Regions from separate parts of the Homo sapiens genome. Here regions 2, 3, 4, 5, 6 and 7 are each linked to region 1. Evidence: fine-mapped QTL for protein levels in blood plasma. Region 1 holds a variant in brackets. A gene starts in each other region. All regions are shown on their forward strands. Distances are between the middles of the regions. Region 1 has its middle 15 kb from the start of ARHGEF3. Region 2 holds the start of LBR (lamin B receptor). Region 3 holds the start of TOP2B (DNA topoisomerase II beta). Region 4 holds the start of CALCOCO2 (calcium binding and coiled-coil domain 2). Region 5 holds the start of DYNLT1 (dynein light chain Tctex-type 1). Region 6 holds the start of HBEGF (heparin binding EGF like growth factor). Region 7 holds the start of BMP6 (bone morphogenetic protein 6).

What was found. PIP is the chance, under the fine-mapping model, that this variant and not a neighbour inherited with it causes the effect. Protein levels are from antibody-based Olink assays in UK Biobank. Linkage for the fine-mapping came from a reference panel and not from the study's own genotypes, which makes the PIPs less certain.
Region 2: LBR starts here. The variant in region 1 is fine-mapped to the plasma level of the LBR protein (UK Biobank, PIP above 0.99).
Region 3: TOP2B starts here. The variant in region 1 is fine-mapped to the plasma level of the TOP2B protein (UK Biobank, PIP above 0.99).
Region 4: it holds the start of CALCOCO2, and the variant in region 1 is fine-mapped to the plasma level of the CALCOCO2 protein (UK Biobank, PIP above 0.99).
Region 5: it holds the start of DYNLT1, and the variant in region 1 is fine-mapped to the plasma level of the DYNLT1 protein (UK Biobank, PIP above 0.99).
Region 6: it holds the start of HBEGF, and the variant in region 1 is fine-mapped to the plasma level of the HBEGF protein (UK Biobank, PIP above 0.99).
Region 7: BMP6 starts here. The variant in region 1 is fine-mapped to the plasma level of the BMP6 protein (UK Biobank, PIP above 0.99).

Annotation. Positions count from the first base shown.
Region 1 is chr3:56,814,502-56,818,566 of GRCh38, forward strand. It overlaps a transcript of ARHGEF3 not described here. Among named protein-coding and RNA genes, the nearest start is that of ARHGEF3, 15 kb to the left of the region's middle. The variant T/C (reference allele first, on the strand shown) is at 1,220.
Region 2 is chr1:225,426,502-225,430,566 of GRCh38, forward strand. LBR (lamin B receptor) reads right to left here and starts at 1,537. Exons shown (of 14, transcript NM_002296.4): 1 at 1,453-1,537. RefSeq lists enhancers at 1-619, 620-1,291 and a silencer at 1,124-1,953.
Region 3 is chr3:25,661,181-25,665,245 of GRCh38, forward strand. It overlaps TOP2B (DNA topoisomerase II beta), which reads right to left and starts at 3,727. Exons shown (of 36, transcript NM_001330700.2): 1 at 3,049-3,727. The coding sequence starts at 3,117. MIR4442 (microRNA 4442) reads right to left here and starts at 3,759; the gene lies at 3,693-3,759. RefSeq lists enhancers at 2,377-2,506, 3,464-4,027 and silencers at 2,794-2,982, 2,937-3,296.
Region 4 is chr17:48,828,700-48,832,764 of GRCh38, forward strand. It overlaps CALCOCO2 (calcium binding and coiled-coil domain 2), which reads left to right and starts at 2,336. Exons shown (of 13, transcript NM_005831.5): 1 at 2,336-2,379. RefSeq lists an enhancer at 2,340-3,221 and a silencer at 2,592-2,751.
Region 5 is chr6:158,642,676-158,646,740 of GRCh38, forward strand. DYNLT1 (dynein light chain Tctex-type 1) reads right to left here and starts at 2,068. Exons shown (of 5, transcript NM_006519.4): 1 at 2,007-2,068. The coding sequence starts at 2,033. It also overlaps a transcript of SYTL3 not described here. RefSeq lists an enhancer at 1,439-2,382 and silencers at 1,506-1,835, 1,996-2,225.
Region 6 is chr5:140,344,688-140,348,752 of GRCh38, forward strand. It overlaps HBEGF (heparin binding EGF like growth factor), which reads right to left and starts at 1,916. Exons shown (of 6, transcript NM_001945.3): 1 at 1,596-1,916; 2 at 1,224-1,397. The coding sequence starts at 1,641. RefSeq lists silencers at 1,831-2,110, 2,151-2,200.
Region 7 is chr6:7,725,502-7,729,566 of GRCh38, forward strand. BMP6 (bone morphogenetic protein 6) reads left to right here and starts at 598. Exons shown (of 7, transcript NM_001718.6): 1 at 598-2,118. The coding sequence starts at 1,455.

The sequences.
Region 1 (4,065 bases):
CAGTTTAAGCATCTATAAAATGGGGATATGAGAGTTTCAAGGTTTTAATGAGTTAAAAACACATGAATAATCCAATAAGATAATATGTATGTCAGATTTCTAAGCATACAGTTAGCACGTCATGCTATTATTAACCCTTCCGGTAAATAAATCATCCTTCTCCCTTTTTTTTTAAATGAATTAAGGAAAAAAGGTGGAATTTGGAGAACTTTTCCAACACTCCTTGCTTCCAAAGACATTAATTCTTTGATTTAATCTTATAATTTCAAAAAAGGATATGACTGTTGCACATATATAAAAGAAGCAGCAGAGTGAAGAGTGAACTGACCTAAATTAGAAGACATGGGCCAGGTGCAGTGGCTTACACCTATAATCCCAACACTTTGGGAGGCCAAGGTGGGAGGATCACTAGAGCCCAGGAGTCTGAGACTAGCCTGGGCCACAAAGTAAGACCTCATCTCTACAATAATAATAACAATTATTATTATAACAATTAGCCAGGCACAGTGGCATATGCCTATGGTGACAGCTACTCAGGAGGCTGAGGCAGGGTGATTGCTTGAGCCTAAGAGTTTGAGGCTGCAGTGAGCTATGATCGTGCCACTGCATTCCAGCTTGGGCAACAGAGCGAGACCCCACCTCTAAAAAAATTAAAAAAAAAAAAAAAAGAAGACATGGTATACAATCTGGCCCTACCATTAAGTCTGTGGTCTTGGGCAAGTCAAGTGATCTCTCTGAGACATAGATTCTTGAACCATATAACAAGGTGATTTAAACATAAATGTGTATGCTTCTGTGATTCTATTAAACAGCAAAGACTGAAGTGTATATGGAGTATTATCTTGATTTTATGCTATTTAATTTCAGGAAAGCTTTCAAATAAAAATTCATATCTTATGTACTGATGAAAGCACCCTGTCTAAAATTAGCATGTTTGGTATAGGCAGCCCACATTTTGGGTTGGTTCAGCATGGTAATATTTTATGAAGGCTCATCAGAAAATTAAGCTCAATGTACTCATTTGTCAAGAAATGCATATGCATATAGATTCTTTTAATATCAAATGGCAAAGCAAACAAGAGGTTGAAACAGAGGAAAGATCAACTATGAGAAAAGAATTACTGAGGGAAAATGGAGACAGACTACAAATGGGATAGAACTGGCCTAAAATATACCACTGTCACTTAAAAATAGGTACTCGGTTACATAGTGCCTGTGT[T/C]ATCTTTACAACAGCATTTGGTTCCTACACTGTCTTCTTCCTACAGGCCTGTTATGACTATGAGAGCTATCTGTTCCTTCAGTGGACCAAGTCTTGCTGCCTTGTGGATTCTGCCCAGTCACAGCTTCCCTTCTGCCCTTCAAGGGTGGGCTGCTTGCATCTAAGTGGTAGGGCCATACCTAATTCTGTTCTGGATATAACACAGATGACTGACTGGGCTTGGTGGCTGATGTCTATAATCCCAGTACTTTGGGAAGCTGAGGCAAGAGGATCACTTGAGGCCAGAAACTCAAGACCAGGCTGACCAACATAGTGAGATCCTGTCTGTACACAAAATGTAAAAATTTAGGAGGGCATGATGGTGCATTCCTATAGTCCTAACTACTTTAGAAGCTGAGGCAAGAGGATGGCTTGAGCCCAGGAGTTGGAGGTTACAGTGAGCTATGATTGTACCACTACACTCCAGCCTGAGTGACAGAGCAAGACTCTGTCTCTAAAAAACAAAACAAAAATACACATCTAGATGGTTGCTGGCATGAGATGCTAAACCACAGGCTTCTCAAAGCTGAGGGTTCTGTGCAACCCTGGCCAAACTTCTTACCCAAAATACTTACTTACATTAATGTTGTCCATTTATAAGAATTAGAACTAAAAACAAAGATACCTTGCAGCAACTTCTAAATAGTGCCCCATAAATAACAAATAGCACTAGAATTACTTAATAAATCATAATCTTCATTATTCTCTAGCATCTGTTTCCCCTACTAGATTGTACGCTCCAAAAGAATCATGAATCGCTTGTACAAGGCTACATCCCCATTGCCAAAAGATGCCTGGCAAGTGATGAGAGCTCAGTAAATGATGCTGAGAGCCGAAGAGGTGTTTGCTCTCTGCCAGGCACTGTGCTTTGACTTTAATGAAGTATCTCAAGTAATCCTTACAACAATCCTATGAAATGAGTACTTCTATAGTAGGAGAAACTGAGGCACAGAGAGTTCAAGCAACTTGCCCAAAGTCACACAGCTAGTAAGCAGCAGAGCTGGAGTTCAAATGCAAGCACCTTGCTTCTAGAACCTCAAGTTCCAATTCTGAAGCGGAACGTTAATTCACAGGCCAGTCACAAACCAGGGAGTCCTGAGGCCAGAGCCTATGATGCAAGGGTCAAGGATTTGAGCCTATATGATATGACTGAAAGAACACTGAATGAGAAGCAGTGCTGACTTGGGTCCAGTCCTGTGACGTTTTTGCTCACCAGCTTCCCCTGCTGATCAATCAGGGGGTTGGATGCTCACTCAAGTCCTTGTCAGGTGTCAACCCCAAGTGCTAGAGTCACCCTAGACATAATCTCACATCCAGAAAACTACAGAGCACAGTGTGCTCTTCCACCTTCCACGAGGGAGAACCACCAAAATATCAACCATCAAGCAAGTTACTCAGTCTCTCAGAACTTCAGTTTCCTCATCTGCAATCAGGACCAAATAGCACCTACTTCAAAGGGTGGAGGTGAAGATTAGAGAGAAACCTGGTTAAGGGGCTACCACATAGTAATAATTTCATAAACAGTAGCTAGGTTTATTATGGTCCCAAACAGAGCGAGGAGATAAGTCTGGAGGAGGAACGAATCTCTTCAAAACCCAGGAACCAACCAACCAGTTGGAAAGACAGCTCTGAAACTCAGATTTTTAAACAATTTCTAACAGTAGACTACATGTGTGGCACATCATCCAAGCAAAAAGTTCCATATCAGATTCTCTTTCAACAAATGGAGTAATAAAGACAGGTTTGAGTTAACTTCAGCTGGAACAGAAAGAACCATTATGACTTGGGAAGTTCACACCTGAGTGCTGAAAAGCTAGAAAATAATGTTAGGTGCCATTTGCCTTATGCCAGACCTGTGACAAGCATGTGACATATATTACCTTACTGAATCCTCACAACCTGCTGAAGAGGGTACTGCCCTGTTGTATAAATGAGGGCATGGAGGCTCAGAGAAGATAAGTAACTTGCTCAAGATCACACAGCTACTAAATAGCCATGCCAGAACTTACTTAGTCTGCCAGAACGTTGATGGTCTTAACCACAAAGCTACACCCTTCCCCAAAGATAGCGTGTCATTGGCCCCAGCATGCCCCGTACCCACAGGGCAATCATGTCCACACCATGGGCAAGTGGCTTTATAGGAAGGCCACGCATGGGGGATCAAGTGGCCTTGGGTTTTGGTCCCTGTTTACCCACAGACTGTGGCAGCTATGGACAAGTCATTTAACTTTCCTGGACCCTGTTTTGATCAAACAGAATGTACTGGATTAAAGTTTTTCAGTCCAAGTCTTGTGGAACATTAATCACTTACATTTTATACCCGAGAGGTTAGGGATAAAAGAGGAGCCAAAGACATAATGAGCTAACCCTCTGTCCTGGGACTCTGGCTAGGGGAAGAAGTGGAACACATTTGTTACCAAACAGAACTGGGTGACCCTCAGTTCCCTTCTATCTTGAAAATTCTGAAACTCTACTGAAAATTCTGAAATTCTCCTGAAAATTCTGAATTTTATGTGACAGGAGAGGACAAAGAAGAAAAGGACTTCAGGGAGTCATGTGGGAGGTGGCAGGGTGGCCATCTCAAAGCTATGTTTGCACAGCGACTACAGTGTACATGCTTAGCTGGTAAGCTTATTTGAGGTGCTTCTGGAGTGAGGGGGCTGGTGGAGATAATGGGAAAGGAAGCTAAATTCCTCCTCTTGAAATGACTAGTATTGCATACAGCAAGCACTCTATAGATGCTGATAGAACTGAATTCAAAGGAAAAAAGACCTGGATCAAACTGATAGAAGTTGAGCTGCTGCTCA
Region 2 (4,065 bases), not on the chromosome of region 1:
CAGATGCCCGCTAACTTCAGAGTCAACTGGCACTGCAATCCTCACACATTCCAGCTCCGGTATGTTACTGTTTGTGAACACAACAATTCTCTGCTCATTAACATTACAGGGGTCTCCAGCCATCTTTCCTTCACTTCTCCAAATTCATCTAAACGTGGCATAGAGCAAGACGCTCGAATGACGTTGGACAGCTTCCTTTTCACACCTGAGCCCCGGTAGCCCCACTAGGCAAAATGCAAACAGGAACCCCGGGCCTTGCTCCGCGCCCTTTGCTTCATGAAGCAACAGAAAGGCCACCTTCCTGGCTGTAAAGGCAGAAGCGCCTTCTTCCCCATAAACATCCTTGGGCAGCTCATCATTCCCCTCCTGCTCGTTCTTCTCCCTCTTCCCAGGCAGCCTGAGAAACAAAACTTAAACTGGACTTGTTGCCTAATCTAAATTAGGATCCCTCTGCTCTTCTCCGTAGCTCCATCTTCTCCCACACACCAGTTACTACAATGCGTAACTACAGATCTACACGTGTTTACGTGCAAGGTCCCCGGGGGCCTGTTCACCCTGGCACTGCCCAGGCGCCGCGCCTCGCGCTGCAGGTGTCCACGCGCGGACCACGGTATCTACCGCGCCCTCGTGTGAACACCCGACCGGGCCCCGTAATCACTCTGGGAAAGCGCCTTCAACAAAGCCCTCCGAAAGCAAGTGCTTTACTAAGTGCCCCTTGAGGCTACTGGCAGTGCGAGGCTGGCTGTCATTAGAACATTTTTCTGAACCCTCAAAAAGGTGAAAAAGCAGGACCGTGCTTTAGCAGGAACACGCACACCCGCCTAAATACCCGATTTTTGAGACTGTCCGGGCGAAGGAATTCAACGCATAGGAGCGAGCAGCCATGCAGTGTGCCTGGAGAATCACCAAACCGCGACGACCACGACCCTCAAAGCCAGTGACAAGCAGCGCGAATCTAAGCCCACCTCGGCCGCAGACCCTTCCCCGTCCCGCCAGGCCGCCGCGCCCTGTCAGCCTCCTACTGCAGGACCGCGGGGCCGCCTGCTCATCTGTCAGACGGGCGCTCGGAGGGGCCGGGAGCCAGGCTGCGGTGGGGCAGGACAAAGGCGCCCACGAACCCTCCCTGCCGCCGCCGCTCCACAGCCGCGCCGCGCCGCCAACATGGAGGGAAACGTCCGCAGTTTAAAACCCCCAGCTCCATTTCCGCAGCGGGCCCGGCTCGGGCGAGCTCCAGCCTCGCCCGCCGCCGCCCCGACCACCCGACTGGGCCAGAAAAGGCGAGGAGGGGAGGAGACGAGGAGGCGAGGAGAGGAGGGGAAGGCCGCCGCGCCAGGCCCCGCGCCCAGGGTCCCCGGCCCGGCCGCTGCGCCGGCCTCGGGCTTCCTCCCCCAGCGGCCCCTCGAAGAACGCGCCGCGGGGAGCTGGGAGCAGGGCGGGGGTGGAAGCACTCACCTGCGCCAGGTTCCGGCGGTGACACGGACGGCTCCCGGAGAATAGTCGCACAGCAACCCGGCGGCAGATCCACGCGCGCGACGCTACCCGGCCGCGCTCTCGCGCCCCGCAGTCCCGCAAGCCGGGCGCGCGCCTCCCCGGCCCCGCCTCGCGGCGCTTCTCCCCTCCCCTCGCCTCCCCTCCCCACCGGCGAGGCCGCCCGGGGCTCCCATTGGCTCCTCGACCTTTTGAATCATCCCCGGCGCTGTCGATTGGTCGCGCGCCGTGGCGCGTCCGCCCCGCCCCACCCTGCCTGGGGGCGGGGAGGCCGGTGAGCGGGGGAAACCGAGTCTGGCGGGGCGGCCCGGAGCGCGACGTTTGCCACCGCCTTATCTCAGCCGCCCAGGCGCCCTCGCAGCACACGGAGCCCGCGCGCTCCCGCCCTTTCCCTCCCAGCGCTCGCAGCAGTGTTTGGGGTGCCAGGTGGCTTGGCGAACGAGATTTTTTTTTAAGCTACAAAGAAAACTAATACATTCTTGAAGTGATCACCAAAGATCCGAGCTCGAAAGCGTTTCTCGGTAAAACACTATGAGTGCCCTCCTTAGCGTGTTAAAATCCCACAGAAGCCCCTGGACCAAGCAGCGGCATCGAAGGCGAGCAGGGGCGCTTTTGTGTCCGCGGCCGCTGAACCTGCGTAGAAGCGAACCCGGACCGATGCTGGGACCGGCGGCGGGAGGGAGGGGGAAGAATGGCCGAGGGCTCCTACGACTTACGCTGCGAGGAGGGGCTCGGTTGTTACCCGAGATGCTGTCGAGATGCAGTAGAAAATCCCCAACACCGCGGAGCGTGGAACAAGAAGTTTTATGCGTTACACACCGAAACACAACTTGACCTGCAACCTACAAGCCTGGTTTTAATTGAACCCCAAAATGCTGAGTCATGTCATTGTTGACTCCGAATCTGTTACGGATCCTAAGCTTTTTTTTTTCTGCTAGTTTTCATTATCGGTTAGTTGATTTCCTTCCTTTGAGGTCGAGAGTTTAAAGCAGTCCATTGAAGTTCCCTATTTTGCAGTGTGGTTTTAATCAAAGTATTTCTTAACACCCTAACTAGGTATATTTAAGTGAATTGCTATTTTGGAAGCATTATTAAATTGTAATAATGAATAGAACTTTTCATCTATAGCCTAGCTTCAGCTTTCATTTTCTCATAGAACTACAAAACACCCAGGTTTACTTCTTAAAAAAAAAAAAGTGAAAATACATCGAGTTTTCTCAGTCATTCACATGCAGTGTGAATGAGTTCATCAGAGCCTTTCCTGAGAAGTTCTGACATCAAATTGTCATTGCCATCGAATTTGCCCTTGGTGGAGATCTGTGCAACAGAAATGCACATCGCACTCCAAAGTCAGAAAATCTTTTATTTTTGACAAACCCCCAAGTCTCAATTGTCTTAACCCTTGACATAAGATAATATTAGTCCTACCTCATAGAGTTTTGCAGTAAATTACACAGAAATAAAAGCGCTTATGGGGACCTAAGACAGATCCTATCCCAAATAGCCAAGCAGTGAGTGCTACACTATTCTTTTCTCATATGTTCTACCCAGAATCAAGATTTCACTGGATTTCCCTTGAGGTGCACATTTCCTGGATGATTTCCACTTGTGAAATAGAAGAAGATTCGTTTCAAAAAAAAAAAAAAAAACACCTGGCCAGGCGCCGTGGCTCACGCCTATAATCCCAGCACTTTGGGAAGCCGAGGCGGTTGGATCACCTGAGCAGGAGTTCGAGACCAACTTGGCCAACATGGTGAAACCCCATCTCTACTAAAAAAATACAAAAATTAGCTGGGCACGGTGGCGAGCACCTGTAGTCCCAGCTACTCGGGAGGCTGAAGCAGAAGAATCGCTTGAACCTGGGAGGTGAAGGTTGCAATGAGCTGAGATCATGCCACTGCCACTCAGCCTGGGCAAGAAGAGCGAAACTCTGTCTCAAAAAATAAATAAAATAAATTTTTAAAAATTTTAAGAACCTTATTTTAAAGATCAGGTTTATAAAGTCTCATCATAACAAAATGAAGCCAAAACTTTGTAAATTAACTAGAGTTAGCTTAGCTAACATTTTACCTAATAAATTACTAATGACATTTTTAAAACAAAACTGATTTGACATCAGGAAAACTAAGCAATAATTTTTGTTCATTTCTACTTCGTGGACTCAAACATACCATGAACAATCAGATCTATATGTAGGCTGCTTTCTCAACAAAGGAACTGTTTGGTATTTTTCTCTTCTTTTTTAAGTCTACTAAAGGCTGTGTAAACTTGGAAGTGGGGAATTTTCAGAAAGTTCTCAGAAAGATGCTTGTCACTCACAACTAGCAAGTTGTGGGTTTTCAGAATCTATAAAGTAAAAGTCACTTAAAAGTCCGCATCTTGGCACCATTGTTGTTAATGAGGCCATGAGTGGCAAAGCCCCTTTCCCCATTCACATAACAAAAGCAAAGCAAAACCCTTCAGTCCTGCCACTAAAGCCAACCAAAACACACATGCGGCCAGGAAGCTTTCATATATAAAATACAGGAACCCCCAGCGGAATGCATTCCAATGTGGCAGTTATTTGGCTCTGGTCTC
Region 3 (4,065 bases), 31 Mb before region 1:
TAGAGATGGGGTTTCTCCATGTTGGTCAGGCTGGTCATGAACTCCTGACCTCAGGTGATCCGCCTGCCTTGGCCTCCCAAAGTTCTGGGATTACAGGCGTGAGCCACCGCACCCGGCAGGTTGATAATTATTGAAGCTTAAGGCTAAATAGAGGGAAGCTTGTTATACTACTCTGGTTACCACTTTTTGAGATGCTTAACATTTTCCATTAAAAATTTTTTTTAATCTACCAAGTTAGAATATTGTTGGGAAAAAGATTAAGTCATATAACTGTATTCTAGTATTTCCACAAATGTCTTTGTTACAATCACTTATGATACAAGACTGACAGAATGAACCAGACTATTACTATCTACTAATCAAAGCTCTACAAAGAATTAATTCAAGAAACCCTGCTGCCTTAAGAGAAGCCTTTGTAACTGCTATACATTTTAAATCAAAATAGCTTTGCCATGTTTATATTTTTCACTTTTTTTAATTATAAAAAATTCTGGTTGAGATACTCCTACAAATCAAACACAAACCAAATGAATTATTAAAATAAGTTAATGCCAGTCCTAAAACCACTTGGCTTTGTAGTTTCAGATATTGAAAGGCAAATTTTCATGCAATGACATTAACAACACATGCTGGCATGCATCCCAACAGTAGTTAATATCAGCAACACATGGCATACAACTCCTCACCCAGAAGAAAGAAATCAGGGGCTAATTCTATTTTTATTTCTTTCTGTTACCACAAGCAGGTGGCAACATAACACTAGCTTCAATAAAGCAGACGAAGTTACCTTTCTCAAAACAGATGACCACTGCAATAAAGCCCCAACTCGTGCAAAGGAAAAATTAATTTGCTTTTACCCCAGCTAAAAGATATTTTATGTAAAAGCAACTGCAATCTATTATTTGAGTGTGCATTTCTTGAAGTTCACCAATAATAACAAACATCATTAAGCCCAGCACTGTGCTACACACGTTATCTCATTTCATTCTCAATGCAACCTTATTTGACAGATAAAAAAACAGGCTTAGAAAGGTTAGGTTCCTTGGGAAAAGTCCAACTAAATGTGTTGGAGAGACAGTATCTGAACCTACATCAGCCTGACGTCAAAGCCCATAACTACCTCACTATATTGCCTCCCATAAAATCAAACCAGTCTATATGATCAATGATGTATATTATGGACATAAAGATGCTCATATAACCTTAGAGTAAGCATCAACTCTTAAAGAAGACTTACAGGAGTGATTATCTTTTTAATAAACTTCTAATTCCATAAGATATACTCTATAAATAAAACACTAAGTGATCTTCACTTCTCTTTATTTTACTGCATTTCCCATATTTTCCATAATCTGCTTTATAATGAAAATTCCTTTAATCAATAAGTCAATTTCAGTTTCAAATGGATTTTTCTATCTTGAATGAGATGCTCCAAGTTTTGCTAAATTAGCAATGAGTTTCCTATGGAGCTTGAAAGAAATAAATTGTCATTTAATTATCTACAAAATTATATAACAGTTAATTAAAGTACTGCTATCAAATGTTAAAGCCAACAATCCACTACGGAGCAAAATGTTTACCATTATAGAACCAGAGGTCTTCAGAGGAAACACCGATCAGGCCTCAACACTTCCAAATAGTGAATGAGAACTTACAATACCATTTGGCTGTCTAAGTCAATTTTCCGATGTCTGATTTTAGTGACAGGGGTAAAAGCCATTAATTCTGAAAGTCATTATTTTGCATGTATGTGTCCATCTCCTCCTTCTTCCTCTCACATACCCTCTACTGCAAGTCCACATGGACCACTAACTTAGTATCTGACATTTTCTCTCCTGGCCCTAGTCCCTTCATACTTTCATTCTACATAATCGGAGTAATATACAACATTCAAAGAATTTCAACAATAAGAGCATGGCAAGTTATTTTGCAATGTACCCTGGCACGCAAACATAAGTGATTAAAATGTTTTGCTGCTGTCAGTAGCACCCTTTTTATAAGAAGCAGTTGTCAATATAGCACAAATTGCTATTCAACTCACCCAAACCTCACCCAAACAAAGAGAAAACGAACTAAGTAACAAAAATGCCTATATGAAAGCTCCCTTGAGGTATTTAAAACAGGGACGGGGGAACAGACCGTCAAAAGTCCAGAAAAATGTAACACTTTTTACTTTTCTCCGAAATACCTAGGTTTTCTGTATAGGAAATGACCCTGGTCTGAACTCTACGCTGAGCAAGTGAAATGCCGGCGAATTATCGATCTGTCGTGGGAATCCAGTCTCCCTTCCTCCTTCCGCTGCAGTTACTTCTACTTCCCAGCAAGAACTGAGCGTCGAAATCCTTTAACTTCAGGACTAAGCACTTCAGTCACCTCTCCAGGACATCCATTCAGCCCTCACCCCGTTACACCTGCGATGCTGACGTAGACAAGCACTTCTTTTAATAATCTCACCCTGACAGAGGGACGACCTACAGTATTAACTGCTGTGAAAGTCATCCCCAATGCGCTCTCAATTGAGCGCATTGAATGAGGCTTTCCAAATTGAAGTGCAAGTTGCTGTAGAAATCCCAATGCATTCTTCTTTGAGATTAAAGCCCCAGAAAGAGCTGCATTTAGAATACACACACACACACACCCCTTTTCCCAGGGTTTTCTTGAACTACATTTGGAGAAAATGCTGCCCCACACAGACACACTTGCATTATCGCCATCCCCACCATTTCAGGTTCGGCTGCCCCGGAAGAGTCTGGTTAAAAAGAAAAGAGAGGAAGCGGGGGCTGTATGTTACGTTCGCGGTTTTGTCCCCCCAAAGTTTCAAGTACACATTACGCTCTGGCAGTCAGGACTTCCAGAGACGTACAGAGAAAGAAAGAAAGAAAAGGCGCGGGGAGCGGGCTGGAGGATTCTGCAAGCACAGGCCCCTATGGAGCGCCCGTTCGGGGGACGGGATTTCCCTCCCTTTCCCCTCCCCCGCCCGTTCGGAATTCCGCCCCCGCCGCGGGCCCGGAACAATGCAGCCGCCCGTCCCGGGGACCAGCCACTTACCACCCAGGTCAGTGCCCCGTTGCCGCCGCCCACGCCGGCTCCCGCGCCGCAGCCACCCGACTTGGCCATGGCGAGTGCCTCCAGCTCACAGGCCCTGAGGCCGCAGCCGCCGCTCCCGCCTCCCTGCGGGCCGCTGGGCCCCGCCGCTCCGCACCCACCGCTCCACTCGCCGCACTCCTAGCCGCGCCGACCCCCGCGCCCCATCGCGAAGATCCGGAGCGGACGTCCAGCCGAGCCCGCTGAGGAGGCCGCGCCGCCGGCTGCCCTCAAACTCGAGGCGCGGCGTCCGCGTCGCCCGGGCCTAGCGCGGCGGCTGAGGAGAAAGCAGGGAGCGACCGGCGGCGGCCGAGCGGCGGCGTTGCCTTCTCGCCCGCCCGCGGGCGCCGCTGCAGGCCGGGCTGAAGCCCGGGCGTGCGAGCCGCGAGGGCGGCCGGGGAGCCCGAGGCGCTCGGACGTGGCGAGGACGCAGAGGTGCCTTGTCCTTCTCACACTCCGCGAAGGCCAGCCACTCGAGTCGCCAGAGTAGTCGTCCCGGTCGCCGCCGCTGCTTCAAAGGCAGCCTTAGCCTCGCTGCAGCCCCGATTTCCTCACACACACACACCGAGAGGGACAATAAACAGAGCCGCCGCCGCCGCCGCCACGGTCACCTCCCTCTTGTCCGGCATAACACCGCACACACACATTTGCACACCGGGGAGAGAGGGAGGGCGCGGCGGCCGCCCCCGCTGTCAGTCAGCGCCATGCTGTCCAATCCGGGCCTTGTCGCCACAGCCTCTCGGCCAATCCCAAAATTCCAAGCCCCCTGGAGGGGCGGGACCCGAGGGGGGAAACGTCATTGCGGGTAGCAACCGAAAGGAAGACTTGGGGTTTTTGTTTGTGTGTGTGTCTGTGGGTTTTCCATTTGAAGGGAGAGCAGGGGCTGCTTCAAGGGTCAATTGAGGGCGGCAAAGGGAAAGGGTCGAATTGGCCTCGGGTCGATTGTAATCCTCCAAGCGTGCTGTTTACTCTGAGACCTAA
Region 4 (4,065 bases), not on the chromosome of region 1:
CTCAAACTCCTGACCTCATGATCCGCCCGCCTCGGCCTCCCAAAGTGCTGGGATTACAGGCGTGAGCCGCCATGCCCGGCCAGCCTTCATTTTTAATTTACTGAAATAGTTATCATGTTAATGTAGACAATAAGCTGTGTGGGTGCAGATGGTTTTCATTCTCAGTGCTTTTAGAAAATCTAATAAGTAAAATTAAGGGAAATGTATCCAGGATACTGAGGGCACTTGTCCCTGCAGACCGAGTTTAAAATGGAAGATATTATTTTGGTAACTCAGAAGGTGATTTGAACTTTAGACGGATGACCCACTTCCTGGCTTACTCATCATTTCCCACCATCCGTTCATCTCAGTTGAATGCCACCAGTCTTGTGAGGAAGCAGATTAGGAATGCTCATTCCCGCTGGGTGTGGTGGCTCATGCCTGTAATCCCAGCACTTTGGAAGGCTGAGGCTGGTGGATCACAAGGTCAGGAATTCAAGACCAGCCTGGCCAATATGGTGAAACCCCGTCTTTACTGAAAATACAAAAATTAGCCGGGCGTGGTGGCGGGCGCCTGTAGTCCCAGCTACTCAGGAGGCTGAGGCAGGAGAATCATTTGAACCCGGGAGGTGGAGGTTGCAGTGAGCCCAGATCATGCCACTGCACTCCAGCCTAGGCGACAGGGCAAGACTCTGTCTCGACAAAAAAAAAAAAAAAAAAAGGAATGCTCATTCCCCTGCCTGAGATGGCACAGAAAAATTTCTTTCCACATTTAAACAGTGGAAGAAGGGGCACTTCCAAATTTAATCTTTCATAGACAGCATATACAGCATTTAACATCTTCTGGATGTTAAAGAAAAAAATATTCTGAAACTTGTTAAAATGGCAAGGAAGAATTTATTCAGGACCAAAGGGGAGATTATGCTGCACTCTGAATACAATAATGACAAGTGGGATTTATAGCCAACAAGCAGAGTGAGGGGTCACTGCATGGAAAATTACTAAAAGGAGATTCTTGTTAAACCAACTTAACAGGACTCTTGTTGAAGGCAGGCCAGGGTTATTAGATATTAAGGATGGGGGATTTTCTTTAAATTGACTTAGCAGAATTCTTTTCTTACTGAGTTTATTCTTTTTTTTTTTTTTTTTTTTTTTTTTTGAGACAGGGTCTCGCTCTGTCTCCCAGACTGGAGTGCAGTGGTGTGATCATGGCTTATGGCAGCCTCCACCTCCCAGGCTCAAGTGATCCTACCACCTCAGCCTCCTGAGTAGCTGGGACTACAGGGGCCCACCGCCACACCCGGCTAATTTTTTTATTTTTTGTGGAGACAGGGTCTCCCTATCTTGTCCAGGATGATCTGAAATTTCTGGGCTCAAGAGATCTCCCACCTCGGCCACCCAAAATGTTGGGATTACAGGCGTGAGCTACTGTGCCTGGCCATGAGTTTATTCTCTTTTTTCTTTTTGAGACGGAGTTCAAGGCCAGCCTGGCCAACATGGTGAAACCCCGTCTCTACTAAAAATACAAAAAAATGAGCCGGGCATGGTGGCGGGTGCCTGTAATCCCAGCTACTGGGGAGGCTGAGGCACGAGAATAGCTTGAACTCAGGAGGCAGAGGTTGCACTGAGCCGAGATCGCCCCGCTGCACACCAGCCTGGGCAACAGAGTGAGACCTTGTCTCAAAAAAAATAAAGACTCTTCGTGAAGTAGTGTTAAGTGGACCCAGGAGAAAAATGAAGATGACCTCTTAATGGCCCTTCAAATGTATAAAGCTTTCTCATTCAGGGAAGAAAGACATAAAGATGTAGCCCAGGCGCGATGACTCAGGTCTGTAATCCCAACACTTTGGGAGGCCGAGGCAGCTGGACCTCTTGAGCCCAGGAGTTCAAGACCAGCCTAGGCAACATGGCAAAACCCCATCTCTACTAAAAATACAAAAATTAGCCTGGCGTGGTGGCGGGCGCCGTATGGGCACCGTGGTTGTCCCAGCTACTCAGGAGGCTGAAGTGGGAGGATCACCTGAGCCCGGGAGGTCGGGGCTGCAGTAAGCCGTGTTCGCACCATGGCACTCTAGCCTGGACGACAGAAAAAGAAAAAAGAAATAAAGGTATAAAAGAAAAAAAAGAAAAGTAAACAGCTTCTTCCAGGGGATGAAGTAGGTTTATTTCGGTGAGATTGCTGCTCAGGACTTAGGAGAGCCATCAAAGGCAGAAGACCGCTCCTGGGGCCCGGTCACCTGAACACTACAAGTCCCAGCAAGCGCCGCGCGGGGGCGGGGCTTGCTGACCGTTGTGACGTGTGGGCGGGGCAGGCGGGACGGGCTCTCCCTTGGGTGCTTAGCCCCGCCCCCGTCCCACTCTGCCCTGTTGCTGTCGCGCCGCTGCTGGTTGCTGTCCCTGGTGAGTGCCTCAAGTGGAAAGGGGCAGTTAGGCCCTCGGGGTGCCCACATTCAGACTTGCAGTCCTGAGAAGGGGCCACGGGGGTAGAGGTGTGGCAAGTTTCGGTTCTCACCGCAGTTCACCCTCTGGGGTGATAGTGGGAGTGGTGTTCTGAAGGCCCTGGAGCCCCTCCCGCGGCCCGGGAGGGTTGCGGGGCAGTTTTGTCTTGCGGAGGGCAGCGCTGCAGTGCTGTGTGGCAGGGTGGGAGGCTCCTCGGGAAGAAGTGACACCCCTGGCGGCGGCGAGGGTCTTGAGGCGGCGGCTGCCGCCCCACGGGTCGTGGCGTCCCGTCCCCTCCCGCGGGCCCAGGCTGTGGTGGTTCCGTAATCCCTCGCCTGGATGTCATCGCCGTTGGCTTCGAGGCGGAGGTGGAGCCTTGTTGCGTCACCCTGAGCAAGTTACTTTCTTTTTGGGCCTCAGTGTCCCCCTTTACGAGTAGGTTTGATCCCTGAAGCGCCTTGCCTTTTGCATGCTGCAGCTGTCGGAGAAGACGTTCTAGGCAGGAGGAAAGACGGTGTCGTGACCTGCCTCTACAGTTAATCCATTGCCCCTCCACCACTGACCCAGCTTAGTTTGGGAGCTAATGTTCCCACTCGTATATTATTTCAACCCCACTGGACGTGTTAACTCTTTTCTATCACTTGGATTCTTGCTTCACATGCAAGCCAACAAGTGACCATGGTTGGAGCTGAGTAAAATATGGATAATATAACTTATTCTATTATTGGAAACACCATTGCAAGTAAAGGACTTTATGTGGTAGGTCTTTGTAGCTTGTGGAGAATACATGATTAAGGAATATCCAGATGGCTCAGTTTCCCAGGTATTTTCAAGGGACCTGGAAACTCTATCCTTTGGCAGACATGACAGCTGTGGAATGGAAAGGGCCTTGAAAAAGGTAGTCGATAATCCTGAGTTACCTGGCACTAACAGGTCATATTGTCTTTCGAGTCAGATAGTACATCTGTGGCTCTTTAAAAATTTAATTTGGCTGACTAGGCGCGGTGGCTCACGCCTGTAATCTCAGCACTTTGGGAGGCCCAGGCGGGCAGAATCACCTGAGGTCAGGAGTTCAAGACCAGCTTGGCAAACATAGCAAAACGCTGTCTTTACTAAAAATACAAAAATTAGTGGAGCGTGGTGGCGGGCGCCTGTAATCCCAGCTACTTGGGAGGCTGAGGCAGGAGAATCGCTTGGACCCAGACAGCGGAGGGTGCGGTGAGCCGAGATGGCGCCACTGCACTCCAGCCTGGGCAACAGAGTGAGACTCCGTCTCAAAAAACAAACAAACAAAAATTTAATTTGGCAGTATGTATTGATAGAATGTCATGTATCCTTAATTATTTTTAGATGAAAAGAGAGTTAAATGAACTCTTTCACTTCTTTTTTCCTTCACTTAGGATCATCATTATATCAGGCAAGGTCCTTGAAGATTTTCTAGCCTTAGCCATGCATTTTGCTGATGAGGAAACAGGCCAGAAAAGGGTACTGTGACTTGGCCAAGCTCTCAGAGTGGCAGAACTAAGATAGGAACCCAGCTCCCTTGGCTGTTAGCCTAGTCCCCTTTCCACCACACTTCAAACACTGTCACTGCCCATGTCACAGGGACATGGCATGTTAGAATCACCCCTGTCAAGGGAAAAGTGG
Region 5 (4,065 bases), not on the chromosome of region 1:
CTTAGAGATTAAGTCATTTCTGGAAGCTTAAAGGATCCTTCCAAGTGACTACCGTGACCTTAATCACAAAGGAAAGGCACTGTATCACCTCCCATATGGTTACAGTACGAAAAAGGTTGAGGGACATTTTAAAGAATTTTTAGTGGAAAGCAGAGTTGTATTGAATCCAGTGGATAGTTTTAACGTCTCCAAGAAAGATGAATGGTGAGTTGAGAGAATAGTTACAAAGGCCCAGGCATCTACACGAAGTTAGAAGAGATGCAGAAAAGGCTGCTAAGAGGCTGGTGGGAGGACCAGAACGGGCCATTCAGTAAATACCTAAGACATGCCTACTACAAGACAGCCATGGTCTCCACCTCCCAGGGCCTCCATCCCAGGTAGAACACTCATCACTCTGTCCAGCCCCTTCATTTTACACATATGCGATTGAGATCTCGAATAATGAAGCCACTTAGCCACCTTATTTGTGGGAGTCAGAATCGGACTGCAGTATTAAGCGCTTTCCTTTACAAAGCGATTTCTTTTTTAGAAGTTTTACTCGATATTACTGTAATACAAGACATTTTCCAATATTATATTAGTAACAGTTTAAGGGGAAAGGCTTTTTTCTTTGCCAACTGCTCCTGAACCAGCTCTTCTCGTCATTATTCACTTGGTTGCCATCAGCATTCAAACACTGATTATGCCACTGTCACAGGAAGTGTGTGCTAGTTAGGAAATCAGATCAAAACTGAAACTCTAGAATCAGTCCTTAAGTTTTAGTTTTATTTTCCCTGAAAACATTCCTCCTTAAACGAAATTTTTTTCTTTTTTTTTGGTTTTTGAGACGGAGTTTCGCTCTTGTTGCCCAGGCTGGAGTGCAATGGCGCGATCTTGGCTCACGGCAACCTCTGCCTCCCAGGTTCAAGGGATTCTCCTGCCTCGGCCTCCCGAATAGCTGGGATTACAGGCATGCGCCACCACGCCCGGCTAATTTTGTATTTTTAAAAGAGACGGGGTTTCTCCATGTTGGTCAGGCTGCTCTCGAACTCCTGACCTCAGGTGATCCGCCCGCCTAGGCCTCCCAAAGTGCTGGGATTACAGGCGTGAGCCACTGCGCCCAGCCACTAAATTTCATAAATGGTAAGATATCCAACCTTACCAAATGTATCTATAGTTTATATTTTTGACAGGCTGCATAATAAATCCATAGGGCTCTATCTGAATTTCAACAAGGATTATTCAGTAAGAAGAAAATGAGTGTTGTATCTCAGCTGCGCCCATCAGCTCTATTCCCCGAATGACCGTGAGCTTGAAGGAAAGCCATTTAACGCACACGGTGCCGATGGGTGTCTTCTGCTTGGCGACATCGTGGGCTTTATCCTACTTCCTCAAGGAGGCATAAAAGATGATTTTTTCCCCACAACAATGAGCTTTCTTACAGACATATTAAACGGAAATGAAATGTGCTACTCATTCCCAGCGTTGCAGAACCAGGTGAGGCCCGAGACAAAGGCGCGGGATGGCCGGGACGCCAGCCCGGGGCGGAGGGGCTGGCGGCGGGAGCGTCACCCGCACCTCCGCGGGGAGACGTCCAAGCCTCGGCGCTCCCAGCCCGGCCGCCGCGCCCCGCTCCAGGCTGGGGCTGGGGCTGGGGTCAGCCCCGCAGAGCAAGGGGCGGTGATGTCATCCTCTCGGCGAGCTTGGCTGCGGGCCGGAGGCGAGGCCCTGCGGGAAGGTTTCTCGGCACCGCTCACCGGGGCGCTCTCTCCGAGTCACGCCCGGTGCCTCCCCGCGCGGGAAGAAGCTCAATCCCCTTCCCGCCCCCCGCGCCGGGGAAACGGCGGCAATGTCCGGGCAGAATGGGGCCGGGCGGAGCGCCGGCGACCGGGAAGCTCAGGCCGTGGGCTGCCGAGACTGGCCTAGCTGAAGGAGGTGGGCAGCCAGGCCTTTCCGGGCAGGACCGCGTGTCCTTCCGCGGCCAGGGCTCTAGGCCTCCACCCTTCCGTCGCCGACCCGGCGGTTACCTCCTCCGCAGCCTGGTAGTCTTCCATCTTTCCTCCGGCGCGTCCCCTCCGGCTCCCTGAGTGGCGCGGACTGCGCAGGCGCACTCAGGCCCCGCCCCGGACCTGCCACGCCCCTCTCCTCTCGCGCCTGCCTCGCCCATGCCCAGCTCCCGGGCCCCGCCCTTCGCTGCCCGGACCCTCAGTGACCCCATCCCTGGGCGGGGCCCGTGGGTGGACCCTGAATTCGCCTCTCCTCCTGTCCTCTGGGAGGTGGTAGTTTCCATGGGAATCCGTGAGGGTAGCCGGGCAGCTCCCTAAACCTTAGCAACAGAAACAAAACACACGTACAAAAGGCAGTCCTGGAGGGGAAGCGTGGTCCCGGCCCCTCCTCCGGTTTGTACTGTGTGGATTGACGCGGACGTTCAAACCCGCTCGGACACCTGGCAACAAACTCGAAAGTGACTGCTGAAGGCAGTGCGCCCGGTGAGACGTTGTTGCAGTTCCCTTGGGGACTGGGATTGGCATGCTTTAGCTATCTGAACGAAACTTCCCTTTGGGGAGTTAAGTTTTCCAGGTAAATGAGAATTTTTCCTTTAAGCACCATTAAAAAAAAACATTTTGGGTGGAAAATTTTGTAAAATGTGGCACACTTCCTGACTACCTTAACCATAGTGAACTAGACAGACTTTATTTGTATGTGGGTTCTTTATGGAAATTAGGAATTGCACTGGGCTCTGGTAAACTGCCCTCCACGGAAAGCTGGGGCATATGCATCTATTGGCAGGTATTCTGAGGCTCCGAGTTTTGATTTTGGCGTTTGCTTTTTCTGGTTTCGTCATGCACTTGAATTCAGGTTGCTGGAACCCACTTCCCATTCCCCAAGAAAGAGCTGACTGCAAGGGTCCCAGGGATTTGGTAGACCTAAACTTCAAATCCCACATCTAATCCATCAACAACCCTTGTTATTTCTACCCCATATGCTCGGGACCCCAGTTAAAGATTGATATCTCTCATCTGGATTATGACCATCGGACTGTAACCTGGTCGGTCTATCAGGGTCTTATTAGAGCCCTTCAAGAGGAACCTAACCCAACGACTCCTCCCTCCCCTCACCCATTCTGCCCTGCCATAAGTCAATAGTTACTAAGTTGTCAGACTATAGACTAATCTTAGTGATCTTTGGATGACTAAACTTTTAACATATCTTAGCTCAAAATCTCCTACAGAGAGCCATTCTGTGACCACGGCATCTAAGGTAGCCGACCTCCTCATCCTCCACCCCTGCATCCTGTACATTTTCCTCATAGCACTTCTCTCAGTTTGCAAGAACGTATTTATGGTTGCTTGTTGATGGTGTGTCTCCATTTAGAAACTAAGTACCATGCAGGAAGGATCTGTTTTATTCACTAATGTATCCCCTTCCTTCCACATTGTGCCTGGCACATAATAGCTACACAATTAACATTTATTTATTTATTTATTTAGAGACAGGGTGTCATTCTGTTGCCCGGGCTGGAATGCAGTGGTGTGATCGGAGATTTTGAGCTAAGATGTGTTGAAGTTTAGTCATCCAAAGACCACTAAGAGCTTGAACTCCTGGGCTCAAGGTATTCTCCTGCCTTAGCCTCCTGAGCAGCTGGGATTCCAGGCACTAGCCACCACACCCACCTATTTTTTTAATATGTCTTTTGTAGAGATGGGATCTCACTGTGTTGCCCAGGCAGGTCTCAAACTCCCGGGCTTAAGGGATCCTCCAGCCTCAGCCTCCCAAAGTGCTGGGATTATAGCTGTGAGCCACCATGCCCGGCCTAAAATTTATTGCATGAATCATTTCCCTCATGGGTGTTAGCTTTGCCTCAGACCCAAATGGAGAGAACTGGGGAGTGGAGGAAGATGCAACTACCTGCCTCCTTGAGGGAAACAGGGCTGGCGAGAGGAGGGCAGAGCCCTGACTGACACAAGGCTGCTTGGCCCTGGGTGTTCGGCCTGAGCGAGGAGACTTGCTGGGCAGGCTGGTTGCTTTACCACACCTGGTCTTCCTCTCCTTGGATTCTGAACTTTATCTACCTTTTGAATTCCT
Region 6 (4,065 bases), not on the chromosome of region 1:
ACAGGTGGTCAGAGGAACCCAGTGACCAGAGCTTCGGGGAGAGCAAGGCAGGGGGGCCAAGCCAATCAGAAAGGGGAGGGAGAAGGTGCAGGGTGACAGCCAGGCTCCTGCCATGGACAGGGAGCAGTGAGTCAGGTCTGCAGAGGTAAGAGGAGCAGCCGTGTGGGTGGGGGGTGGGGGTGGGGTGAGTCACAGCCCAGCCCTGCCCAGCCTAGGAGGAGAGGGCCAGGAGAATCCAGGCTGTTCAGGTCATGGGCAACCCCAGAGGGCCACTGGGAGAGGATGAAGTATGGGAGCCCAGGCTCAGTTTTGGAGTATGTGCTTGATTTATACAAAGTAGAGAGAGTATCCAAGGAAAGCTCCTGGGAATGAGGGAGAAGGGCAGCTGAGGAGCAGGTGGAACTAGAACAGGTGGGCATCTGTCCAACCAAATATAGTCATTCCAGGGTACAGTGCTGAGTCCTTGCTCTACTCTGGATAATCTCCTCAGGTTTGGAGGCAGGAGAGCTGGCAGGCTCTGGACTCTGCCCTGTACCTGTACTTGGCCACAGCCAAAGAGGCTGGTTGGAGGATCCTACACAGCCCTCCCCATTTGGAGTCTCCTCAGGAATGCAAGGTGCTCAGTAAGCTGCAGGTTTCCGGTAGCATTCACAGATATCCAGCATTTTAATACAGCCCCCTAGGGGCTCAGTGCTCACCATTCACAGCCTCATCTAGGGCGGCCAAGAGCTCCTCATTCCCCTCTGTTTCCCCAATCTGGAGACAGGTGGATGGAGGAGGCCAACACTGCACACTTTCTAGAGATGTGCCTGGGCATCTCCGCATGTGTTACCTCTATTTTATATATAATAGTCATTTGATATGGGAATTAGAACTGGCGCCCATTTTTACATAGTAGCTCTAGGGAAAGCATCTCAACCATTCCTTGTTCCTATCACCCAGCTTACCTAAGAAGAACGTAACAACCCCAGACAACACGTCTGATTCAATTTGCCCCGGAGTACCCAGAAGGGCAGCAACCCAGCAGGTGAGGCAATGACAAGAGAGAGAGAGTGGGACCTATATTCCAGGATCCCCCAGTGCCCATCAGGCCGATCAGCTTTTCCCCGAGGTTCTCCATGAATACCCTCAACCCACAGTATTGCCCAAACAGCAAGAATCTTGGATCTGCTTATTCTTCAACAGCCCACCAAGGTCCAAGGATGGGGGGCCTCCACACCCACCTCTCAAAAGGTCCAGATCTGCCTCTTGCAAGTCACGGACTTTCCGGTCCCGGCCGCCTCCTAGGGGTAGCAGCTGGTCCGTGGATACAGTGGGAGGGTCCGGGTTGCTGGTTCCAGCAGCTAGCCCTCTCCGAAGCCGCTCCAGGCTCTCGCCAGTCACCAGTGCCGAGAGAACTGCGGGCGAGAGGCCAGGCCGCATCAGACACCCGCCCAGACCCCTGACCAACACGCACCGATGCCGACGCCCGTCCGCCAGAGCGCAAGGGCCCCACCAAGTGGCCCGTGCCGGGTGCGCTGCGGCGACCTTCCCCCATGCCCCCAGCACAACGCCCCCATCCCCCCGATCTCCGGGGGCGTCGGCAGCCCTCTTACCTGCAGCCAGAAAGAGCTTCAGCACCACCGACGGCAGCAGCTTCATGGTCCCGCACCGAGAGGAGGCGGCGAGGCACCAGTCACTTTCGAAGCGGCGGCCACTGGGCGCTGGCACCAGAGCTGGGCGGCGGAGCTCAGGAGATTCCGCCGGGCACCGTCTGCCGCCCGCCTCTGCGTGCAAGCCTGGCCGGGACCCAGGCGCAGCTCGCTCTTCTTGAGTGTCTTGTCTTGCTCACTCAGCCCGCCCGCGCGGCCGCCCGACCCCGCGCGCCTAGGTCAGGCCAGCCAGCAGCGTGGCCCGCGTAGCTCCTTCGGCCGAATGAGCGCTGCCCGGCTCGCGGCCGGGAATAAGGCTCCAGGAGGCGCGGAAGCTCCGCCCCGCCCGGCGCCGCCCCCTCCCTCCTCCCGTGCTGGGAAGCTCGCCCGGCTCGCGGCGCCGGCAGCGCAGCCCCCGACCCCGCGGGCGCGGCGGAGGACTGGGCGGGAGGAGAGGGCGGCGTTCACAATTTTTGGGACCAGGCCGAGGCAGCCGCGGCCTGATTGTGGGTAGGGCTACTGACCGGCAGGTGGCGGAGAGCGGTTCCTACCTTTCCCCAAACGCCTGTCACTCTGCAGCCTTGTGACTGACTGCTGAGCTGAGTTCTGTTCCGGGCCTGGCCTCTTGCTTCATCTAAGCCCCATACCAGGGGTCTCCATCCCTGTCACCCTCTAAGTTTCAGAAGCCCACCTTTTGGCCTACCAACACGGCAAGTATCAAATAATAATTAATTCATCTATCATTTAAAAATTAGACACGTGAATGCCAGCCGTTCTCATAAACCCGAGATAACCAGAGTTGAAGTTGCAGGCACTTAGTATCAATCCAGCAAAAGCAAAGGAAGTTAGTACTCTCTTAGTCTCTGGAGTGGCTTCCTCCCATCTTCCCTCAGGGGACATTAGGATTTTTGAACTATGGGTTGTAATTCCCAGGCTTCTGAGATTGGAGAGACACAGGTTGTGAAACAAGCCTTATTCTTTTCCTTGCCTTTGACTGCCACCTTTTTCCTCAACATAAAAAATGAGCCACCCTCCCATAGGACCCAGCTGGCTAACCTAGATTGCTGTTTCACAGACACTAGGTGTTTCTCTTCCAACCCATGTGCTTTTGCAGGGGTCTTCTGGAGTCACTGTCCTGACCCAAAGAAATGAGTGTCTCAGTAGGTATTTCAGTTTCCAGGGACGTGCTGGGGAGAGAGTTGTTTGACACAGGGCTGGGTTGGCTTTCAGAGCCCTGAAATTGTGCCAGATAGAGCACTTGCCGGATTCTGCCTGTGTGTAGGGATAAAAACAGGCCTGCTATTTATACACAGTCTATCCCACTGTCCCTCCCTATCCCCACCTTTGCAGGGGTCAGTCTGGCCCTGCCCTCTTAACTTGCTCCAGTAACCTAGGCCTAGGTTTCCATAGTGCACTGGAATCACTACAGACCTGAGTTTGAATCCTGCCTTTGCTACTTACTGTGTGACCTTGGACAAGAAACTTAATTTCACTGAGCCTCAGTTTTGACGTCTCTCAAATGGAAAAAATAATAACAATAATAATAATGACTACTTTGTAGGGAGCTTTTTGAGAAATGAATGCGGGAACACATAAAAGTAGTTAGTATAGTGCCAGGCACACTATAAGCTCTCAATAAATGTGACCCATTATTATTGTTGCTGTTAATAATAATCACTAAGCACTTGACCACTCTATTTCCTTAGAGGCCTCTTTTCTCTCACTTCTCTAGATCGCTTGCCTTCCCCTAGGCCATATCTGAGGCTTTATGATATAGTTGGGCTGGTTTCAGACAGAAGCTCACCTGTCACCTATTTGGCTAAGAGCCACTGTTAGATTATCCTTTTGGGTGATGAGTATCGGGCCTAGGACCTCAGTGCATGGTCACCGCCCAAGCCATGACTTTGCCCTCCCTCAGCAGCTGCCTGGCCACCTGCTTCCCCAAAACAAAGCCACCTTGGGGTCAAGGCTCTCCCCAGGGGAGGGTGGAGAGAAACACTTCCTGACACATGGTCAAATCACCCCCTTTCCCCCACCCTCGCCAGAGTCACACCCTGCTCTCTTGCCCCAGCCTGCCTTTCTCCCTTCACATGCTCTGTCCTTCCGCCTTCTCACCCCCACATCAGCCTCAGTCCCATTCATGGGGCAACTCCAAACTTTCATCACACCTGGAGCCTCACCCCAGCTAGGTTTGTGTGTCAGCCAGGTTTTACAGGAAGGGCCTGAAAAAAGAAGATAAAAAGCTTGAATTGGATTTGGGACAGTCACTTCCCCTCTCAGAATCTTGGATGTCTCTGAGCAAAGAAAAGGAATCACAATTCATGCTGAGGCAATCTCATTAACTCAATTATATCATAAACATTAACTGAACATTTTTGGGGGGCACTGGGGACATAGAAATAAATAAGACAGCCCAGGACCTGCTTTCACAGAG
Region 7 (4,065 bases), not on the chromosome of region 1:
CAAAGCACAAATGAACAGAGAAGTCAACACATCCGACCCCAAACCCTCAGGACGCTGGCTTGGGTTACATGTGGCCCTCTCTGTGGTCAGTTTGTGAGTAGCCTCCCCGGAGGGTGTGTCCCAACTTCCAGCAGCTGCCGTGGAAAGCCACGTGTCCGCTAAACGCCTACATTACATCAATAAGAGAAACTAAGGAAGGGATGGAAAAGCTATCATTTTTCTTTTCTTCCTCAGTTCTGGCAGTATAGTGATTTAATCGCTGTTATTATTTTTATTTAGTTAAAGCATCAACTTAGGCCTTTTAAATGATGGTAAAAGAGAAAGCTTCAGATCGGGGTATTGGTCAGATCATTCTTACTAGCGATGACCTCTTCGCCTTTGGCACCTCGCGGCTCTTCGCATGCCTCCAAGAATTCCCGGGTCTTGAAACCTACGCGCGGCGGAGGCGACGCCTCTCGGGAGAGGGAGGGTGAAAGAAGGGGCGGGGCTATTTAAATAGCCCGCGAGCTTCGCGTCCCCATTGGCTGCCAGCCTGTCGGTTACCGCGGGGCGGGGAGTCCCGGGGCTGGAGTGAGGTACCTGAGCCGGGCGCGCAGCAGAAAGCCCACGTTGGCCGCTGCGGGGAGCGCGGCGTGGAGAGGCGGGAGACCGAATTCCGGCGCCGCCGCCGCGGCCGCTGCTCGGTGCACTAGCCCCCTTCCTTCCCATCCTTTCTGCGAGCGGGTTTGCTGGGCAGCCGGGCGACCGCCGAACGGAAAGCAAGATCCTCGCCGCCTCCGCTTGAGGAGGCGTGCGGCGCGCGGAGATTTTGAGTGGGAGCGACGGTGCCCGAGAGCTCAGGGGCGCGGAGTTCGTGAGCGAGAAGGAAGTTAAACCTCGCGGAATAGACTGGCATTTCGGGACGCCTTGTCGCCGCAGCCTGGGCCCTGCAACGGGGTAAACTTCATGGTGGCCCTGCGATCTGGGGAGGGGCGTGCGCCACGGTGATGCCGGGCATCTCCCGCAGCTCGTGAGCGGCCCCGCTCCCCGCTGCCCCGGGTCCCACTCAGTCGCCAGGGAGAGCGCGGGGCAGCGCACGTGTGCGGCCAGCGAGGCCCAGAGTGACCGCGCCGCGACTCGCAGGAGCCAGGGCGCAGGCTGCAGTGCAGCCCGGACTCAGACGCACCTGGCCTGGACCGCGCGCCTCTAGAGACCTGCGCGAGGCTGTGAGGCTCCCCTTCCTCCCCTCCAAGCGGTTCTCCTGGTGATCGCCCCTTCGCCACCTCTCTAGCCTGGGCAACTGGGGGCGCCCCGGACGACCATGAGAGATAAGGACTGAGGGCCAGGAAGGGGAAGCGAGCCCGCCGAGAGGTGGCGGGGACTGCTCACGCCAAGGGCCACAGCGGCCGCGCTCCGGCCTCGCTCCGCCGCTCCACGCCTCGCGGGATCCGCGGGGGCAGCCCGGCCGGGCGGGGATGCCGGGGCTGGGGCGGAGGGCGCAGTGGCTGTGCTGGTGGTGGGGGCTGCTGTGCAGCTGCTGCGGGCCCCCGCCGCTGCGGCCGCCCTTGCCCGCTGCCGCGGCCGCCGCCGCCGGGGGGCAGCTGCTGGGGGACGGCGGGAGCCCCGGCCGCACGGAGCAGCCGCCGCCGTCGCCGCAGTCCTCCTCGGGCTTCCTGTACCGGCGGCTCAAGACGCAGGAGAAGCGGGAGATGCAGAAGGAGATCTTGTCGGTGCTGGGGCTCCCGCACCGGCCCCGGCCCCTGCACGGCCTCCAACAGCCGCAGCCCCCGGCGCTCCGGCAGCAGGAGGAGCAGCAGCAGCAGCAGCAGCTGCCTCGCGGAGAGCCCCCTCCCGGGCGACTGAAGTCCGCGCCCCTCTTCATGCTGGATCTGTACAACGCCCTGTCCGCCGACAACGACGAGGACGGGGCGTCGGAGGGGGAGAGGCAGCAGTCCTGGCCCCACGAAGCAGCCAGCTCGTCCCAGCGTCGGCAGCCGCCCCCGGGCGCCGCGCACCCGCTCAACCGCAAGAGCCTTCTGGCCCCCGGATCTGGCAGCGGCGGCGCGTCCCCACTGACCAGCGCGCAGGACAGCGCCTTCCTCAACGACGCGGACATGGTCATGAGCTTTGTGAACCTGGGTAAGGATTTGGGGTAACGTAATGACGAGAACATTTCCCCCTTTTCAGTGTCCCGGGCCCAGGGGATGGAGTGAGGGGGTGGAGGAGCTCCCGGCGCGCGGGTCCCGCCTGGTGCGCCAGAGAACGCGGGGACAGGCAGGCTGTGCTCCCGCCACCTGCGCGGCGGTGGGCGGCACATGCGCTCCCCCGCGCCGCGGGCAGGGCTGCGCGCCGAGGCCCCCAGAGGCGGCTGGCCGGCCGGGCCGCGGGGCTCCGGGAGCGCTGTCCCCAGCGGGCGTGTATTTGCGGACTCCCTGAGCACGTTCCGCGCTTTTTTTCACTTCTGCCCAGCTCTGGCCAGGTTAACTCAACTGCAGCAGGAGAGTCCAGCCCGAGTGTGGCCATCCTGGGAAGAGGGCTCTTCAGTACGATTTTCCCCTCTAAACTGCCGCCTTTTGCCCCCTAACTTGGAGTGCAGTTTTCCCACCGAGACTTTTAGGGAATCCGACAGCGGCTGGGAACTTTGAAAACTTGGCATGAGTATGTTTAGAGGTATCCACGGCACTAGGGGAGGTTGCAGAGGGAAGTCCCAAAAGGACCGCGGAAGGCGCTCGGATCCCGGCCGGGCGGGGCTCGCTTCTGTTTGGGGCGGGATGAAAGCTCAACTGGGGTAATCCATCCTGTGCCCCGGCTCACATGCCCTTGGCCATTGTCCCCAAAGGCTGAACCTTTGATCAATGCAGCCCAAGCTGCACGGGCAGAGAAAGGGTGCGGGGTAGGGGCCGGGGTTGGGCGCTGAGCTCCTCTGAACCGGTTGCCAGGCAACAGAATGGAAATTCACGGGCGGCTAAATGGAGCTCCGCCACAAATGTTCTGTGGCAAACCCGGACCCAGTCACATCGCCCTTTCTCCCCCCTCCCACCCCACTGAGTTTTCTCATCTGTAAATGAGAAGGGTGCAGAGAAGACTCTTTTCTTCGGAGTCAGTGCCTCCGGTTTGCACTGCTTTTCATTCATAAGCTGACTTAGTTTAGCGCAGACATAGGATGGAGGGACGCGCTGTCAGCGGACAGATCATGGGTGCACTGGCTACGCCCGGGATGGTTGCAGCTGCGCGGCGGGGTGGGGCTTCACGGGCCTCCTTCCCATGTGAGACGGTGGTTGTGCCCAGGCCCTGAAGTGGGTGAGCAGACACTCGCCAAAGGAGCACACGGGTCTCCCAGCCACGTCAAAGACGCTCATCTTTTAACGGCATTACTTACTGGAATGATTCCCGCGTAGACTATCTGGGTGATTTCTTTACCAGCCTATCTATGATTCCCAACTCCACTGAGCTTTGAGGGAGAGAACATGGGGGGTAAGAGCCAAGGGAGGGTGTGGAGGCAGGGCGATTGGCATCCAAGTGGTGCAGAAATCCTCCTGGGAAATTCGTGAAACAGAATCTCACAGGAGTCCAGGCTCAGGGCCTGCCAATCTGGCTGCTTGCACTGCCCGGGGTTCTGATTGGACAAGAATTTTCACAATTTATTGGAACCAAATCCAAGGTTGAGCCACCTCCAGGAAGCATTCTAAGGAAATTCTCATGCCAGTCAATAAAATTTGTAGTGGGTGGGGGCCAGGGTGGCAGAGGACCAGCGCTGTTCCTTATTCTAACTTTTCTGCTGCTTCTGACTTAGTAAATTCCTCCCCTTGCTCTCTTCCTCTCCTCTCCTTCCACCCTCACCCCCCGCCCCCACCCCGCCTCCAGGTTTCCTGGCAGCTCTGGGGAAATGTTTTATTGCCTCTTGGGGGTAGTCCTAACCTGGACAAAGGGGAGGAAGACTGGCGCTCCTGGCTACTTCACAGAGAATCGTGTTACAGTCCCTGGGAAAACAATTCCTGGGCTTGAACCGAGGTTCTCAGCATTAGCTGCCCTGTAGTATCACCCGGGGGACTTAGAGTTCTAGGGTTATTAGGGCCGCTTCGTGGG